2 linked regions of the Homo sapiens genome follow. The protein of the gene in region 2 purifies or fractionates together with the protein of the main gene of each other region. This does not show direct contact. Each region holds a gene or a part of one and is shown on either strand. Other genes may lie near its edges. The genes, in order: CCM2 and WDR73.

Region 1 (3,814 bases), on a different chromosome or scaffold from region 2:
AACTTATTCTCTTAGAGTCTAGATGCTGAAAGTCCAAGATCAAGGTAAATTTAGCAGGGTGGTTTCTCCTGAGGTCTCTCCTTGGCTTGCAGATGGCTGCCTTCTCCATGAGTCCTCCAATGATCATTCCTCTCTGTGTCCTAATAACTTCCTATAAGGACATCCATCAGATTGGATTAGGGCCCACACAATTACCTCATTTTACCTCAATCACCTCCTTAAAGACTCCATCTTCAGGCCAGGCATGGTGGCTCAAGCCTATAATCCCAGCACTTTGGGAGGCCGAGGTGGGTGGATCACGGAGTCAGGAGATTGAGACCATCCTGGCTAATACGGTGAAACCCCATCTCTACCAAAAATACAAAAAAATTAGCCAGGTGTGGTGGCGGGCACCTGTAGTCCTAGCTACTCAGGAGGCCGAGGCAGGAGAATGGCGGGAACCTGGGAGGCGGAGCTTGCAGCGAGCCAAGATTGCACCACTGCACTCCAGCCTGGGTGACAGAGCAACAAGACTCCGTCTAAAATAAAAACAAATAAAAAAAAAAAGACTCCATCTTCAAATACAGTCACATCCTGAGGTCCTGGAAGTAGGGGCTTCAGCACATGACTCTGAGGGGACACTATTCGGCCCACACAGGCAGGAAGCAGGAATGAGGAGAAGGTGCACATGAAACTGACTGCCCACACATGGGCACAGGGGACTTCGTTACATGATTTTTTTTCTTTACATTTGCTTTTGAAGTTTTCATAAAGGTGTTCCTGATCACTCTTACCAAAGCCTGCTCCCACCATCCATCCCCGGGCTCCACTTCCTGCTCTGCAGCCACAGGCTCACCGTACACATTTCAGTCTCCAGCATCTGTGTCTGACACCATTGGTGCTAATAAACAATAGTTTAATGGACAAGTGAATGCATGATGTGGAACACCTCCAGTGGCTTCAAGTGCATACAGAACCAACACCCAACTTCCCAGCCCAAGGACTTCCCAGGACTGGGGGGTCCTCTCCACCTCATCTCTGCTTCTGAACTGCAGGACACAGTCCCGGTCTCAACCTGGCTGGAAGTGGCTGCTGCCTGCCCCATGTCTCTTCTGACATCCTAGGTCTGCCTTTAGTCTCTAATTTTAGGTGTAAGTGACCTACTTTCCAAAGTGCAATGTCCCTAACCCTCTTCTCAGTGGGCTAAGCACATAATAGGCAAGGCATGACCAAGTTATCTCACTAAAAACTTGTATCGCCACCACGTAAACCAACAATAGAGGGTGATTTAAATGCTCAATAGTTAGGTTTATAGGACTTAATCATGACCATTTACTTACACTGCAAAGTGACAACAAGGAGGGGGCACTGCTGACGGAAATGAAAAAACTGGAAGATCAAGAGTAAGCGCCCCAGTGGGGCAGACTGCAGACGCCCTTCTCGTCTGCAGGGAAGCCCTTCACTGCAATAATATTGCTAAGAGAAACGTTTTGCTTTACACTATCTTCCTCTGAAAGGATGCTCAGAGCAGCCCTGGAAGGTTCTGATGTGCTTTCTGAATCTAAATTATGACAGAATCTGACAATATGTTGAAAATTAACAAATACATACTATGTAAATGGTAACTCTTCAAGACAGAAAAGTAACCAGCCTTATGTTGCCGATCATTCTGGCCTCACCTACTGGCTGCCTTAGGTTCTCTGCTGAGCACCTCCTGCCTGGTTCTCCAGCCTCCTGACCCTGAGTTACCAAGTTGCCATCCAAGAATCACTGCAATAGCTACCCAAGAGGAAAAATAAAACAAAATATAGCAGCCCCAATTCACCTTCTGAACCCAAGTATGGCTTGTGACAGTTATAGAATCGGTTTAGTGGGTCATGACCATGAGCCTTTTTTTTTTTTTTGAGACGGAGTCTTACTCTTGTCGCCCAGGCTGGAGCGCAATGGCACATTCTCAGCTCACTGCAACCTCCATCTCCCGAGTTCAAGCAATTCTCCTGCCTCAGCCTCACAAGTAGCTAGGATTACAGGCCCCACCACCACGCTCAGCTAATTTTTGTATTTTTAGTAGAGATGGGGTTTCACCATGGCTGGTCTCAGACTCCTGACAGGTGATCCACCCACCTCAGCCTCCCAAAGTGCTGGGATTACCAGTGTGAGCCACCGCACCTGGCCAACCACCAGTTGTAATAGAAAGAAAAAAAAATAGAATTAAAAAATCAGAGCGTTTAAGTGTGGTTCCTTTAAACTTTCACTTCGGTTATACAGACACACACATTTATGTCTGCATCAGGTCAGCATGGAGAAGGTATGGCTTCCTGGTGCCTGCAGTGACCAAATTTTAAAAGGTACTGGTCCAATCCAAGCTTTCAGTTCCTCACAGACACTGGTCCAGCAGTGACTACAGCAGCTGATAGTTCAGGGCCTGTAACCTAGAGGATCTTTTCCCCTCCACTTTTTATTATGGAAATTCTCAAAAATACATAAAAGTAGACAGAACAATATATAACCATTACCAAAGCATTCAGCTATCCCCTTTGTTTCTTCTATTTTGAGTAAAGCAAATCCCAGAAATCATATTATTTCACCTACAAATATCTCAGAATACATGCCTATCAGATCAGAACTTAATTATCATACCCAACAAAATTAATAATTCCTTATTTATTATTTAATATCTAGTCCTACATTTCTAGGGAACTTTATAACCTTTTTTTTCTCTTTTTCTTCTTGAGACAGGGTCTTGCTGTCACTCAGGTGGTGGCACAATCACACTCACTGCAGCCTCGACCTCCAGGGCTCAAGCGATCTTCCCTTCTCAGCATCCCAAGTAGCTGGAACTACAGGCATGCACCACCATGCTCAGCTAATTTTCTTATTTTTTGTAGAGATAGGGTCTCACTACATTGTCCAGGCTGATCTCAAACTCCTAGGCTCAAGTGATCCTCCCACCTCAGTCTCCCAAAGTGCTGGGATTACAGGCGTAGCCACTACACTCAACCTATAACCTTTTTCTACCTTAAACAATGCAAATAAACTAGATGAATGTAAAAATATTTAACTTTGATCAGTGTGAAATCATAGCCACCTGGTGGGGCAACCGAAGACCAGAGGCAGCAGAGAAGCTGAGACCCACAAGGTTAAGGCCACAAGATGGTTTTTTTTTTTTTTTGGAGATGGAGTCTTGCCCTGTTGCCCAGGCTGGAGTACAGTGGCATGATCTCAGCTCACTGCAACCTCCACCTCCCGGGTTCAAGAGATTCTCCTGCCTCAGCCTCCTAACTGGGATTATAGGCACATGCCACCACGCCCAGCTAATTTTGTATTTTTAGTAGAGACGGGGTTTCACCATGCTGGCCAGGCTGGTCTCAAACTCCTGGTGTCAAGTGATCCGCCTGCTTCGGCCTCCCAAAGTGTTAGGATTACCTACACCCAACCCTGACAAGACAGCTTTTTTGGGCTGTGATCTGAGTATAAAAATCCACACAACCCAACTTAAGTGCATCCAAGTTTCTAATAAAAAGGAATTACTGTCAGGTGCGGTGGCTCAGCCACCCAGCACCTTGGGAGGCCAAGGTGGGTGGATCACCTGAGATCCGGAGTTTGAGACTAGCCTGACCAACATGGAGAAACCCCGTCTCTACTAAAAATACAAAAATTAGCTGGGCATGATGGCACACGCCTGTAATCCCAGCTACTCGGGAGGCTGAGGCAAGAGAATCACCTGAACCCGGGAGGCGGAGGTTGCAGTGAGCTGAGATCGTGCCATTGCACTCCAGCCTGGGCAACAAGAGCGAAACTCTATCTCAAAAAAAAAGGAATTACATAGTGCCAC
Region 2 (3,814 bases):
ACTCCTGAATTCAAGTGATCCACCCAGCTCAGCCTCCCAAAGTGCTACAATTACAGGCATGAGACTGTCCCCAGCCTGAGTCTCCTTCTTAACTGGCTCAGATTAGGGGACAGGGGTGTATGAGTCACACTTTCCTAGAACCCCAAACCCCATCAAGTCAAATTCACTCACCACTGTCCTCTGCAACCTGCCACACCTGCAGATAACAACCTGGAAGGCCACTGGTAACCAGCAATCTATTCAGAAAAGACAAAATCAGTCCAGACCATGGGGAGCTTATCCACACAGGTCCCTTCCCCTTTCCAGCACACTTAGCTTGGGACTCCACTTCCCATATCAGGACATCTTACTGCAAGATCATCAAGGCCAACCACCCTCATTTCACAGATAAGGAGCAGGCTCAATCAACTTTAGGGAGACTGAGCCCAAGCTTCCATGTGTCATGATGGTCACCTACAGAGGACACAAGTATGGGGCCAAACACAACCTGACCCAGAGACTCTTGGCCTCTCCCAACTGAGCAATTATCACCCAAGAGCAATAGAAGAGCATCTTTCTGTCCCGTATCTATTCCCTGGAGCAACTCCGGTAGAACTGTTACTTACATTAGTCCAAGGGCTCTGGGGGGCTATGAAGCCACAGCAGTGGTTTCTTTGTATTCTAAATCTGTGTGTATCTGTGTGCACACACTTGTGCACTCACATGTGCCTGTGTGCTGAGGGGGTGGGAATGGAGATGAGGAGGCAGAATACCCCCAGGCATTTGCAGCCATCCCATCCCATCCTGTGTGGATGGCTGGATCACAAAATTGACCATACCTGGTATGTGGCACATGCTTTAGATCAAAGATAGACCTGTCTGAAAATCCTCCATGGCGCACTTTGAAATCTCTTTCTGGGAATAAGCCCTAAAATACAAAGGAGTAGCCAATCAGAGCCAGCTCTTCAAATGAACATTTCAGAGGAACTCTAAGTGAGGAGTCAGGTCCTAGCCTGGCAGGAGGCCATGGAAGCCACTCAGCTGGTGAAAGGGCGTTGGTGTCCTGGTATTTGGCAATGTTGGTCTCAGCTGCCTACACGTACAGCTTCCTTTTTCCTTTGCACATCCAAAACCCTTCTCCTAGCCTTTCACTAGCCCCTTTTACTACAGCACAAGCATTATACTCCAGGCCTTCCTAGAGAAGCCAGAGAAGCTTAACAGCTTCATCAAAGAGAGCAATGAACACATCCCCATTTCTCCCTCCATTCTCCCGCTGGAAGTCAGGTGGGTTCCTCTAACGATAAAAATTAACAATTACAACTTATCAGTATTCACTGTGTCAGGCGCAGTGTTTAGGGCTTTATCACATTTAATTCTTACAACCTCCTATGATATAGGTACTATAATTATCCCTATTCTACAAATGACACAACTAAGGCACAAGGAGCTTCAGCCACTTATATAAGGTCATACAAGTATTAAGTTGTGAATTTGAACCAAAGTCTGTCTAACCCAAGTCCACACTGTTAGCCACTAGGCTCTACTATCTCCATGTAAGGAACCAGAGGCAAGGGAAAAGGAGGTGGCCATAGAAGAAACAAGGCAAAGCTGGTGGTGAGCGGGGAGGTTAAATCAGTTCTCACAGCTAGGCTCAGTCTGGGTGAACCCCTGACTCAAGCCTGACTGGAGATGGGGAAGATGAAGAACACTAGGTGCTACCCTATAGCTTCTGTAGCCTCTGGGTTTTATGAGTACAAATTTGGCTTTTTTTTTTTTTTTAACTTTTTTTTGAGACAGAGTCTCACTCTGTAGCCCAGGCTGGAGGGCAGTGGCGTGATCTTGGCTCACTGCAACCTCTGTCTCCCCAGTTTAAGCTATTCTCCTGCCTCAGCCTCCTGAGTAGCTGGGACTACAGGTGTGCACCACCACACCCAGTTAATTTTTGTATTTTTAGTAGAGACAGGGTTTTGCCATGTTGCCCAGGCTGGTCTCGAACTCCCAACCTCAGGTGATCCGCCTGCCTCAGCCTCCCAAAGTGCTGGGATTACAGACATAAGCCACCACACCTGGTCTTTTTTAACTTTTTAAATTTTGTGAAGAGATGGGCTTGCCATGTTGTCCAGGCTGGACTTGAACTCCTAGGCTCAAGCAGTCCACCGCCTCAGCTTCAAAAAGTGCTGGGATTACAGGTGTGAGTCACCATGTCAGTCTACAAACTTGGCATTTTTCCTAAGCTTTCCCTCTTGAGATTATAATTCAGTATGTTTGGGAAGTATGCTAGGAATATGCATTTTAGCCAGCACTCCTAATGGCCCTGGTAGGGTGGTCCTCAGGCTACTTTGATAAAAACTGGGCCACATCTGCATGGGATCTAGCCTCTCCCAGGCTGAACAATGTTTTTCTATGTCCTTGTCTAGCCTCTTAGCCTCTTCTCTTCTAAACAATTAGACTCAACTCCATAACATGGTGAGGCCCTAAGATAAATTTATTTACTTATTTTTGTGAGACGGAGTGTCATGCTGTTACCTAGGCTGGAAGTGCAGTGGTGCCATCTCAGGTCACTGCAACCTCTGCCTCCTGGGTTTAAGGGATTCTCTGGTGCCTCAGCCTCCCCTGAGTAGCTGGGATTAAAGGCATATACCACCACACCCGGCTAATTTTCTTTTTCTTTTTCTTTTTTTTGAGACGGAGTCTCACTCTGTCACCCAGGCTGGATGCAGTGGCTTGATGTTGGCTCACTGCAAGCTCCACCTCCCAGGTTCAAGCAATTCTTCTGCCTCAGCCTCCTGAGTAGCTGGTACTACAGGCGCATGCCACCACACCCGGCTAATTTTTGTATTATTAGTAGAGATGGGGTTTCACCATATTGGCCAGACTGGTCTCGAACTCCTGACCTTGTGATCCGCCCACCTCAGCCTCCCAAAGTGCTGGGATTACAGGTGTGAGCCACGCGCCTGGCCAAATTTGTTTTATTTTTAGTAGAGATGGGGTTTCACCATGTTGGCCAGGCTGGTCTTGAACTTCTGGCCTCTAGTGATCTGCCCACGTTGGTCTCCCGCTCCCAAGGTGCTGGGATTACAGGCATGAGTCACCGCACTCGGATTGTTTCCTATTTCATTAAATAATTTAAAACAAAACAAAATAAAAAAGGCCAAGTGCGGTGGTTCACACCTGGAATCCCAGCACTTTGGGAGGCAGGAGGATTGCTTGAGCTCAGGAGTTTGAGAACAGCTTGGCAAGACCCCGTCCCTACCAAAAAATACAAAAATTAACCAGGTGTGGTGGCACATGCCTGTGGTCCCAACTACTCGGGATGCTGAAGTGGGAGGATGGCTTGAGCCCAGGAGGCAGAGGTTGCAGTGAGCTGAGATCGCGCCACTGCACTCCAGCCTAGGTGACAGAGTGAGACCTCAAAAAAAAAAAAAAATTTTTTTAAGAAGTTTGGGGCCAGGAGTGATGGCTCATGCCAGTAATCCCAGCACTTTGGGAGGCCGAAGCAGGCGGATCACTTGAAGCCAAGCGTTCGAGACCAGCCTGGCCAACACAGTGAAACCTCATCTCTACAAAAAAATTTAACAATTAGCCAAGCATGGTGGCACATGCCTGTAGTCCCAGCTACTTGGGAGGCTGAGGCGGGAGGATCACTTGAGCCTGGGAGGTTTAGACTGTAGTGAGCCAGGGATCGCGCCACTGCACTCCAGCCTGGGTGACAGAGCAAGCCCTTGTCTCAAAACAAAAAGGAATTCAGGAGCAAACACTCAAATTCCTGCCCCCACATGGCCCTTCAAGGTCATCTGCCTGCATGCCTCACTCCTCCCTTGTCCTCTGATGACTA

Evidence for each region.
Region 1: the proteins of WDR73 (region 2) and CCM2 purify together in Homo sapiens (co-immunoprecipitation; one large-scale study listed by IntAct). This does not show direct contact.

Annotation. Positions count from the first base shown.
Region 1 is NC_000007.14:45,003,066-45,006,879, reverse strand, and holds part of CCM2 (cerebral cavernous malformations 2 protein), read right to left. Parts: intron 1-3,814. UniProt on the Homo sapiens protein: Component of the CCM signaling pathway which is a crucial regulator of heart and vessel formation and integrity. May act through the stabilization of endothelial cell junctions. May function as a scaffold protein for MAP2K3-MAP3K3 signaling.
Region 2 is NC_000015.10:84,647,719-84,651,532, forward strand, and holds part of WDR73 (integrator complex assembly factor WDR73), read right to left. Parts: intron 908-3,814; coding exon 819-907; intron 237-818; coding exon 172-236; intron 1-171. UniProt on the Homo sapiens protein: Component of a multiprotein complex required for the assembly of the RNA endonuclease module of the integrator complex. Associates with INTS9 and INTS11 in the cytoplasm, stabilizing the INTS9-INTS11 heterodimer and blocking the active site of INTS11.